Regions from separate parts of the Homo sapiens genome. Here region 1 is linked to region 2. Evidence: fine-mapped expression QTL. A gene starts in region 2. The other region holds a variant in brackets. All regions are shown on one strand. Distances are from middle to middle.

Region 1 (5,381 bases), 100 kb before region 2:
TCCAGCTTGGGAGTTGGGGGTGGGGACAAGTGATTCCTCAGTGAGCTATATTAGAAAGGTCAGAACAGAACTGTTGCATCCAAATCAGTGGGGGCAAATGAATAAATGTAAACCAGCTGGGGTTTTTGTAGGACATGGAGAAAATCAAGGGATGAGCCTCTGCCCTGAAATTAAAGAGACCTTGTGGAAATTATGGGATTTAGGATTTTCAAAATCCATTTCCCTACACTTTTAAAAGGCTTTGAAATACTTTCACAGCAAATGGAATCTATTGGAGGCAATTTAGAATTGAAAATCAAGCTATCTTTACCTTTCTTCCTGATTTCATAAGCTTTTATCAGAAATCCTTGGAACTTAAAAATAATAAAATACAAATCAAACACAGATCGATAGTAAGTATTTCCAATTCTTCTACTACATCACCATTTTCCATTAATGGTTTTATTTCGAATGTTTTTTTAAGCCTGCAAATTTCAAAAGCAATTTAATTTTTTTATCTGTAATCTGAAATATACATCTAACTAGTAACAGATGTGATCAACTAGCTTTGGCTTGACTAGCTTTGTTGAGATTTATGGTAGGAGTTCTTTGTAACGGATTGTTTTTCACCCATGTTATTCAATCATTTGGTTTAATAATTTATTACTTTTAACCCATTCAGAAAACTGCTTTTGATTTGTTTTCCCTTTAAACGAAACAAAACATGTTTGTGGTTTCATAAAAGGAAACAGCTGAGCCCTTGCTCCAACGAGCTGGTTGACAGGAGGCCTAAAAAAGTAAGAAGCAGTCAATTGTTTGATTGAGTTTCTCCTCCCTGACTCCTGCTACTGGTGTGTGTGGGGGTGGGGGCAGGGGGCGGGTGGAGGCCAGAAAATGCTGTGTAAGAAGACATTGGAAGCTATGGAAGTCTATGGGTGCCTGCTGTAGCCAGTTGATCAACTAAGTGGACAGCATGTCAGTCTTAACCTGATCAGTCTTCCTGGTGCTCAGCCAGGTGGTTTTGGGATTTCTCACTGGATTACTCTTTTTCCTTTTTAAAATTTTTAATTTAGAGATAGGGTCTTACTTTGTCCCCCAGGATGGAGTGTAATGGCACAATCATAGCTCACTGTAACCCTGAACTCCTGGGCTCAAGTGATCCTCCTGTCTTAGCCTCCCAAGTAGCTAGGACTACAGGCACTCACTACCATACTTGGCTAATATTTTTTCATTAAATTTTTTTTTGTAGAGTCTTATTATGTTGCCCAGCCTGGTTTGAACCCCTGGCCTCGAGTGATCCTCCTGCCTCGACCTCCCAAAGTGCTGTGAGGCATGAGCCACTGCACCTGGATTACTCGTTTCTAAGGATAGTCTCATATGCTACACATTTAACCAGAATCTGAGTGTGGGGCTAGGAATATGTATCTTTAACGAGAGCCCCAGGGTAATCTGGGGTGCATTGAGGTGTGAGAATTGCTATTTCTAAGGTATAGATAAGAGCTTCAGTGATGTTTGGCACTGAGTACCTTTGAATGTTGGGTCCCCTACTAAAACACAGACAATCACTCATTCTGTTAAAGACCCAAGAAATTTTCCCAAATGACCTACAATCCCCAGGGATAATTGAGAAAATACAAGAGGCTGTTTACAAAAGGGACCGGACTATGCTCTTTTGGCTGCATTTAAGGAAGTCCAAAGAGTCTCCTGGAGTCACCTGACTATACCCACAGACTTGATGCTAAGTGAGCCACAAGTGAATATGGGCTATTCCTGGGAGAAAGGGTCCTTTCCCAGCTCCAGCCCTGCAAAGACCAGGGCTGCTGAAGCCTTGTTGTGGAAGTATACAAAAGAAGGATGCCCCTTACCTTGTCCATGCTTGTGTTTGTTATTGATGACAATTTGCACAATGGTTCCTGATGCTTGCTGGGAATCCATAAGAGCTCCCCGGTGACTTCTGGCCCCAGGAAAGCGGGACAGACCTCCAGCCTGTCGGCTTGGTGGAGGATCATAGTGAGAGCGGTGGTAAGAATGTCTCTGTAAAATAACAAGAACAAATTTAGTCCAAAAGCCACCAATGAGATCACAGAGATTAAGTTATATACTAGAAGTCATTCAATAATTTTGATTTATAGTGGTGAGCTCTGATTTCAGCTGCATGCTTACCTACACCAATAGAAATAGGGATGTGGTCATGTACAAGCAGCTGACATTTTTTTCATTAAAATTTTTTTTTAATGACAACTTGCCAAGGTTTATCTCTCTTCTTCTAAAAGATAGGACTAGATTTACAGGCAAACTTCTCAGGGAGAAAAGAGCCAAAAAGGCTAAAGCGTCCTTCCTGCTGCCAAGACTCTCACATTTCAGTTTAAGAGTTAAGACAGTAGTCTGCACGCAAGGCAGAATGTGAATAGAGGCTGCAGAAGAAGTAAGCAGTCCTGTGCAAATCAGAAGGAGAAAGAGAGAGCTTCTAGTTGGGGAGGGCTTGTGACCTGGGCCACGAAGGATGGGTAGACTTTTTTACAGGCAGAAGTTAAGTGGAATAGTCCAGGCAGAGGTTTACAAGTTGAGAAGGTGAAGAAGAGAACATCGAGTCCATAAAAGGGAACAGTTGCAGAATAACATTCCAAAAGTGGGTTGAAGCCAGATCATGGAAGACTTTAAA[T/C]GACAGGCTAAGGGGTGAAGACTTTATTTGGTAAGCAATAGAGGTGAGGGCATAGAAGGCTTTGAGGGATTTTTTTTTTTAAAGTTAGAGAAATAATGTAATCAGAACTGTTTCAAAGCATTGAATCCTGATCATGCATAGGGTGAACTGGATAGGAGGAAAAGATGAGATTCGAGTATAGTCTTGATAAGATGTACTTAGACTCTAAAGACAGGTAATGGCATAAGATCATACAATGCAGTACAAATACCCTAGGTATTTTATAGGTAGAAGAATTGATAGTACATGACAGTATTGGCATGTAAGCTCTACGAAATCAAGGACTTTTTGTTCACTGCTATATCTCCAGTGCCTAGATTTTAGTGTCAGGCATCTAGAAGGTGTTCATCAAATACTTGTTGAGTGAACAAAACTCTGGTACCTAAGAAAAGCTTAGAGTCTTGTCATACAAGTAATCTTTCAGCAAGGGTTCAACACACGTGATGACCAGACTATTGTGCTACCCACCCCTCTCCCAGGAGCTAAAGTAGGCTGGGGGTACAAGAAGATGAAATGAATGAAGAATGGAACCTTAAGGCTTAAAGCCAAGTAAGATTAATTGTATTTTATAGGCAATTGTTAGGGGTGAAGGAGGGGGAACCCATTAAAAAACTCTTTCACAGGCAATTGAAAAGGAAGGTCTTTATATTCAGTGACAGAAATAGTGAGGAACCTTGGGAAGATAGTTATGGGGTCCCCTGACCATATCCCATAAAACACTGTTTAAAGTTATGGGCCACAGACAGGCATGTTGCAAATTTCACTTTGGGAAGTATTATTGCCCTCTTGGCAGGAAGGGGCCACTGGTAGGGGAAAGGGAGAGTAAACAGGAGCTGAAGTAAGAGGACCTTTTTTAGCCTTTTGAAAGACAATGTTATTCTATCTAAGAAGAGCCTATGTTGGTGCATTGCTATCAAAATTCACACAAATAAAAATTTGCATCAGTTTGTTTTCATGCACATGGATAGGATTCTCAGTTCAAATATTTCTCATTCCCACAATGGCTCATATGTCCTTTTCTGCCATAATCACTCACATTCCACAAAGGCCATTATAGGTTGCTCTGTCCTTTTTGAAGTTTGGCAAAGTTTTGCCAAAGGAACACATAGAGGACAGTTTGGCTGGTTGGTGTCCCACTGATCCTAAAAAGAAGCAGTTGGACTGGGATAGAATTAGAGAGGGAAGGTTGTTGACCCAGGATAAGCTGCAAGTACGAGAAGTTCTCTGACTCATGATGGTGAACACAAAATGAAAAGCCATTCTTTAGCACCAACGTCTCAGACCTGGGACATATAATAATGGTAGGAAAATGATCATGATGAAAAAACAAAATCCTCAAGAATTTTGATCACAGGCCCTATTGTAGACCAGTCAGTCCCCCAGAACCTAATCTTGTTGAAGTCTTTTGTTTTACAGACAGAGAAACTGAGGCCAAGGAGGAGAGGCAGTTTACTCATGGTGATAATGAAGATTGAGTTTTTGGAGATGGTAGGAGTGTAGGAGTAGGGGGAAGATGAATAGAAGGAGGAAGAGAAGGAGAAGAAGGAGAAAGTGGAAGAAAGAATGTCCAATCAAACTCAGTGGTCTATAACCATTTGACTAAAAGCTGGTGCAAAGAGAAGTTCTTTCAGATACAAAAGTTCATTCAGCTACAATGTTCACAACCACATATACCACATACTCCACTTTGGCTATACACTAAAATCACCCGGTGAGCTGTAAAAAATACTCATACCTGGGTCCCGCTCTGAGGTATCCTTATGTAAGTGGTTTGGGGGAAGGCCTGGGCATTAGGATTTTATATACTCCCCAAGAGACTCTGGTTTGAAGCCAAGGTTGGGAATCACTGACATAAAGGATTTTCTGTTTGGGGGCTGGAGTGGGTGGTGGTGGTGTGTGATTTTGATTTAAGGGTAATGGTTCTTTTAGAGTTCCTCCCCTAAACAAATGAAAGAGACTTATGAGGGGCCATTCTGACCTTGTAACTCAGAGCAAAGGAGAAAAAGGTTATTAACGCCCTGAAGTTGTAAGTGAAATTGGAGCTTATCTTAAAAATTAGCTGCAACTAGCCTGCTTGAGAGAGCGGGTCAAAACCAGTTAGAAATGACCATATAGCTATGATCTTTTATTTTGCTCAGTATTTTGGTATTTTTTGATTTACTTACTTGAAAGACTGAAAAATATTTCAGGCTTTAGAGGTGGCTCTAAAACAGTTCTTTTCCAGTGTTGAAAAATCCCCACTATTGTAGAGGACCCCCAAGAATTTCATGTTCTAAAGTCTAAAATATAAGAGTTTTATTGGTGTAGACAAGAAAACATCAGGGTCCAGAAAGGGCCCTCATGTTTGTGATACTGTACTATAGATTTTCAAGATGTTACCATTTGGGGAAACTGGGCAAAGGGAATATGGGATCTCTCTGTATTTTCTGCTACAACTGCAAGTGAATCTATAGTTATCTCAAAATAAAAAAAGTTTAATTTAAAAAGCGGCTTCAGAATATATTCTAATCCATACAGCCATTAAAACATTGTATCTTAATCACTACCAACCTAGGACTATCTCTGGCTGGAAGACACTTAGGCCAATTTCCTTCCCAAACCATTGTTCTGACAGTACAAATGAGACATGGATTTTTATCTGTTTCATGTCGTTTCTATCCCAAACGCTTTCACTTTTTTTAATGGTAAATTTCAACGTAAT
Region 2 (5,381 bases):
AGGCAAGTTATAGGAAAATGAAAATAAATTTTGAAATCTTCCTTTCTAAGGGAATTAAAGTTGATTTCTCAAGAGATTTTTTTGGGAGAAAAGGGAAACTTTAGCTTGCAAAAACGGTTATTTTAGCAAACAAGGTAAAAGTAACAAGCATGAGACCAAGCAATTTCTGAAATGAAAGTTAACTAATCTTAGCTTCAAGACTACTTTTAATCCTTTTGGAATGAAGTACAAATTGATCAGTTTCTCCTGTGTCCTCTATGAGATCTACAAGGATCTTTGGTTTGGCAACTAATATTGCAAAAGATAGATGTAATTAGCAAATGGATGCAATTAAACACCTGAAAAGTTTTACTGCTTAAAATGGTTCCAACATATTCCTCCCCCAAGAAGTCCATTGTAAAATGGAAATTTTAAATGGGCCATTTTTAGGGGAAATTGGGCAAATTAAATAGATAATTTGTTCACCTTGCACCACCATGCAAAAGACCATTAAAACAACTACAGTTCTTCAAAACATGAGATTGGCATTCCCAGTATAAGGGGTAGAAATCTTAAACCTTTTGAACCTTGGAACACAGAAAGTTTGCTGTAGCTCACATCTAGTCACGGATCATTTCCACAGATGTTAGAGTTTGCAAAATTCCTCCAATGGGTGATCTGAAAATATTGAAATGTTCTAAAAACACCAGATTCAATCTGAATGGGAAATGAACTCATTGATCTTTCCAGAAAGTCCAACCTAAATATTGCACATAAAGAACTTGAAGGAATGCAAAACGATCATTTTGGAGAGTTGAATATCTTTGGGCTCTGAAGTAGATGCTACAGCTCCTACTTAAATGCTATGAAGTTGCCTGGGTCATTCAAAATCCACTGTTTCAATTATGAATGCATAACCAAGGAAGAACTGATGATAGAGTAATCTGTGCTATCAAACAAGATTTGCAGCACCGTCTGCCTTCCTTCTTTACCTCCTCCCTGCTCCTTAAAGAACCAAATTCTCTCAGGACATGTTCCTACCCATCTAAAGACCTGAGTTCTGATGTCTTGGTCCCCTCTGTGAGTTTGTGGCCCACTTACAATCACTCAGAATGTTACTGTCCCTTGAGGGCTACCACGTTTATTCGAAACAAATCATTTTCATTAACAATTTAACACAGCTACCCACCTCAGTGAGGTTCTTCCTGAGCCTATTCTAATAAGTTTATTCCCCAAGCCTCCAAAAGAGAAAGATTTTTAACCACTGAAATCCAATTTATCACATTCATATATGGATTTCAACGGGTGTTTCTGAAACCATGGTTTTAGGGTCTCCCCATGCGAGAATCAACAGGGCTGCTTTTCTTGTATAATGGTTGGGCGATTCGGTGAACTGTAGCATTGCTTCATAACTCAAGTTGGCAAGAAAACAGCTCATAGATTTTTTTGCCTTTCTTAGGTCCCAACTAATATTATGAGCAAATAAAAAAGTTGGTAACTAGAGAGCAATTAATCTCCTTTGGCGTTCCTGTCATCTGTGTGGCCTCCCAGGCTGTGATGGAGAACATCAGAAAATGAATCGCTTTATAAATATTCACTTTTGATTTACAAGATCCTGAAGTCCTGCCTTTGTATTCTGTGCAGAAATATGAACCAAGAAGAGTTCCCTCCCCAGATCTCCTCACTGTTCAATTTCTCTTTATCTCTTCAGCTTTTTCTTTTAGGGAAGGGGGTGGTTCAAAACATGTGTTGGGACTGCAGCAGTAAACACTAGCAAGCATTGCTCAGCGAACTTAGCCGACTCTTATTCTTGCAAAGAGCCAAACTGTCCTTAATTTTTCAAATTATACTTTGACCCAGTTAACTGGAGTTATTTCTGCATTAACTCTCTGTCTGCTTCACACAGGCTGTTGTGCCATTGAACTTGCACTGGCTCTTTTACAGGTTACTTAGACATGTAGCCATTGACATGCTTCAGGGGATCCAGGACCCAACAAGAAAGCAACAACAACAACAAAAAAACAAAACCCTGCAACTAACACAGGTAGTGGAGGTGGGATGGGAGAGTTCCTGTGTTTTACAAGAGAAAGAGAAATGTATCAAGTACCAAAAGAAAGGTATTTATTAAGGTGCTTCCATGAAACAAGCATTCACATTGTTCATCTGCGTTAAGCAAAGGGACCAACTGCTCCTTGCCCAGCTGTGACTGCAAGGCAATCTGGGCCATCAAGTGTCAGGAGCCCACTTTCAGAACAGGTCTCCTGGGTAGAACAGAAGCAAAGAGACATCCCCACAGGAAGGCTAAGGGATGAACACATGTCAGCCAGTTCTTCACGCCCCACAGTGTCTCTTTAATCCTCCTGAGAGGCTTGACTGACCTTGTAATCTCACATTGACTATCATCTGTGGGACAGCCCCTAGGGTAGCAATTTTCTTTCCGACAAACAATAAGAAAGACACTGGAGTCCCAGGCCCTTGTCCATCAGCTGAAATCCTCTCCCCACTCTACCACCCAGCAAGAAAAGTTCAGTTAACTGGTGGTGTGTTGCCACTGAAAATGGCAGTTTTAACCCAGGGTATCTCTTGTTGGAGGAAATGCTTTCATTGCTGCTTATGACTGACAAACAATGCCTCGCATTTGGCTTGCAAAACACCTTTCTATCATTTCATTTCATTCCACACAACTCCACCTTCAAAATGGGCACTGGGGGGACCCAGAGAACTCAAATAACTTTAGTGGCAGGGCTGGGAGGGACTGGAAAGCAGGCTTTCCGGGCCCTATGTTCTGGCAATATACCACGTTGCTTCCAGAGCCTAGTGTCTCAAATTCTGACCCCCGTAGTCAGGGACAAAAAATGAGGCAGATGGCCAGAGGATAGGATAGGGAGCCTTTCGCCCATCTACCCTGCTACATTAACTTTACCATGTATTCATCAGCAAAATGAGAAAACAGGCTCAGGAATACAGGCAGTGATTAAGGGGACTGCAGAGTCCCTTGGGTAGCTCAGGGTGGAGTACCTAAGTGACCTCTCAAAGCGCCAGAGCATAAAGAAATGCAGGCCGAGTGGGGAGGGACGAGCTGTGAGTTCGAATTCAGAGACCCCCAACTTGCTTTGGTCAGAAGCCTTGGGCCCCACCTCCATCCAGGTTGCTAACTGCTGGAGCACAGAACAGGTTGGGGTGGCAGGGGAATTTGGGGCACCCTGGGGAAACTTCCAGGGACGGCTCCGGCCAAGAGAAGGCAACCCACCTGTGCAAAGGCTGGAAAAGGAGGTGAGGGAAGCGGGCGCCGGGCACTGCTCACTAACCTGGGCACTGGCCTTCTCCGTCTGCCACGCGTGCACGCGCTCCGAGCTCCCCGGGGCGCTCTCGTCCGAGGTCTGGGGCTGGCAGGTTGTGGCGAGAGCTAGAGTGCGCGCGAGGGGGGAGGGGGAACTCAAAAGTGGGTGGGAGGAAAAACATCACCGCCCTCACACCACGAGGGAGCAGCGGCTTGCTCGGCTCCCGGGGGCAGAGCCAAGGCGCGGGCGCGGCGGCCCGGGGCCACCTGCCCGCCCTCCCGCTCGCTCCCCACTTGGCCCGAGAAGCCGGCCGCTCGGCGCTGGCGGGAAGTCCGCAAGCACGCAGCCGCTGCAAGCACGCACACTTTCTCCACCCCGGCACAATGGCTTTATTTCTGCTCCCCCGGCCCGAAAGTTTAAAAATCGGGAGAAAGTGTGAGACTCAGCCGGCTACTTTCCCATCACACAGCGCCCCCACTGCAGCCCCCACTCCTTTGGCTAGGCGAGCGTTGGGGTCTTAAAGGGACCGCACAGCTCCTCCGGTCCCTCCTCCCCCTCTGCACTGGATGCACCTAGGAGCTCCCCACCACTCGCGCACGCCCTGAAGATACCGACTACCCTCTGACTCCCCTGCCTGGAAGCCCACACCCGCTCTCCTCCGGCACCAAGGCCTTTCCGAGGTGTGCACCTGGTCTGGTACTGAGCTGGTGCCCTGGACACAGAATGAACCCTCCTCGCAAATCACGCCCTAGCATGCTGCTTATCATTTCACGGCGTTTCCCATATCCACACTGTGGCTAACAGAGTGACAAAGCTTTGGTTTGGTGTCCTTAAAGGCGGGGTGGAGATGGGTGTGTGTAGGGTCAGGGATTAGAAATCCACTTTCTCTTACAAACTGGGCTCCCAAGCCTCATGGAAAGGGCCTGTTCTAACTGTTAAGTGTCTTGAAGAAAACTTGGTGCCACACACTATACCCACCATTTTTTTTTTAAATGAGTCCCTAAGCTTCTAAGTTGGGCCAAGAGCTCAACCTGGAAATCACAGTAGCACTGCTGATGCCTTGGTGGGCCTGCCTACTCCAAATTTGTGTTTATTCAACAAGTGATAGTTGCAAAGAATTGTCAGAAACTTCTAGGGTCCAGGAAAGTGCTGCCTCGACAGACAAAATTTTAAGCCCCTAAATTTGGAGAAGAACCGCAGAGCTTTTTTCTAGATGAACTAGATAAATATCTATATTCCTAACATCTGTATAGTACTTTATGGCTTACGGAGTGTTTTCACATACATCAACATTACTTTTTAAACCCTCAAAACCAACCGAACTACCTGAGGTCTCAAGTGTTAGAGTTGGTGGGGAACTTCTGAACCATTCAGCTTAACTTCATCATTTCACAGAAGAGGAAACTGAATTGGGGGAAGAGGATGATGTATCTAAGGTCACACAGCTAGTAAATGACAAATTTGAGATTCCAATCCAGATTCCCTGACTTTCAACCCACTACTCTCTGGTTGTTATCTCCAGTCTGTAGATGAGGAAATTGATGTTCAGAGAAACTGTGGCTTGTCAAAAAAACAAACAAACAAACAAACAAACCACTTATCAGGAACAGAAAACAAAGAAAAATTAAAACAAGAATAATTGTCCCTGAACGTTACCTCCTTTTGCTTTTTCAGAAGTGTTAATAGTATCCAGCTAGCCCCTGCATTGCTGGTGATGTTTATTTCACTGTTAACAAAGGAAAGGGGGCCCTTTCTGTAATGTTGCCTTCAGGGCCCAAAATGTCTAGCTCCGTCCTGCTGCCTGGGTAGCCATACACTGCCACATGCATTCAATTTGTGCTGTTGTATATCGGTTTGAACTTGCTGATTTGTTGCCTTATAACTGTTCTCATGCCGTTTAATGCAGTGATGTTTTGTCTTACTAGATTGTGAGTTCTTCAAGGGCAAGGACTGGTTGTTCAATTTCTCTTGTGCGTGCATTACCCAACTCCCATCATTACTTCCAACATGCTTACAGAGTATTCTGGAAAATGAGTTTCAAGGGATAGTCTGAGACAAACATAAATTCTAGCATTTAAAATAAATAGACTCACTGGGATTTAAAAGTTCATCTATTTGGCT

Which allele goes with the higher level. Alleles are on the strand shown, and positions count from the first base shown. SD is a standard deviation of normalised expression in the study named.
As copies of C replace T in region 1, the expression in sigmoid colon of the gene that starts at base 3,361 in region 2 goes up (small effect, 0.29 SD a copy in GTEx).

The links. PIP is the estimated chance that this variant, and not a neighbour inherited with it, causes the effect.
Region 1: its variant is fine-mapped to the expression of CHRDL1 in sigmoid colon (GTEx, PIP 0.94).

What each region holds. Positions count from the first base shown.
Region 1 is chrX:110,692,319-110,697,699 of GRCh38, forward strand. It overlaps CHRDL1 (chordin like 1), which reads right to left. Exons shown (of 12, transcript NM_001143981.2): 8 at 1,845-2,013. Among named protein-coding and RNA genes, the nearest start is that of CHRDL1, 100 kb to the right of the region's middle. The variant T/C (reference allele first, on the strand shown) is at 2,642.
Region 2 is chrX:110,792,457-110,797,837 of GRCh38, forward strand. CHRDL1 (chordin like 1) reads right to left here and starts at 3,361. Exons shown (of 12, transcript NM_001143981.2): 1 at 3,288-3,361.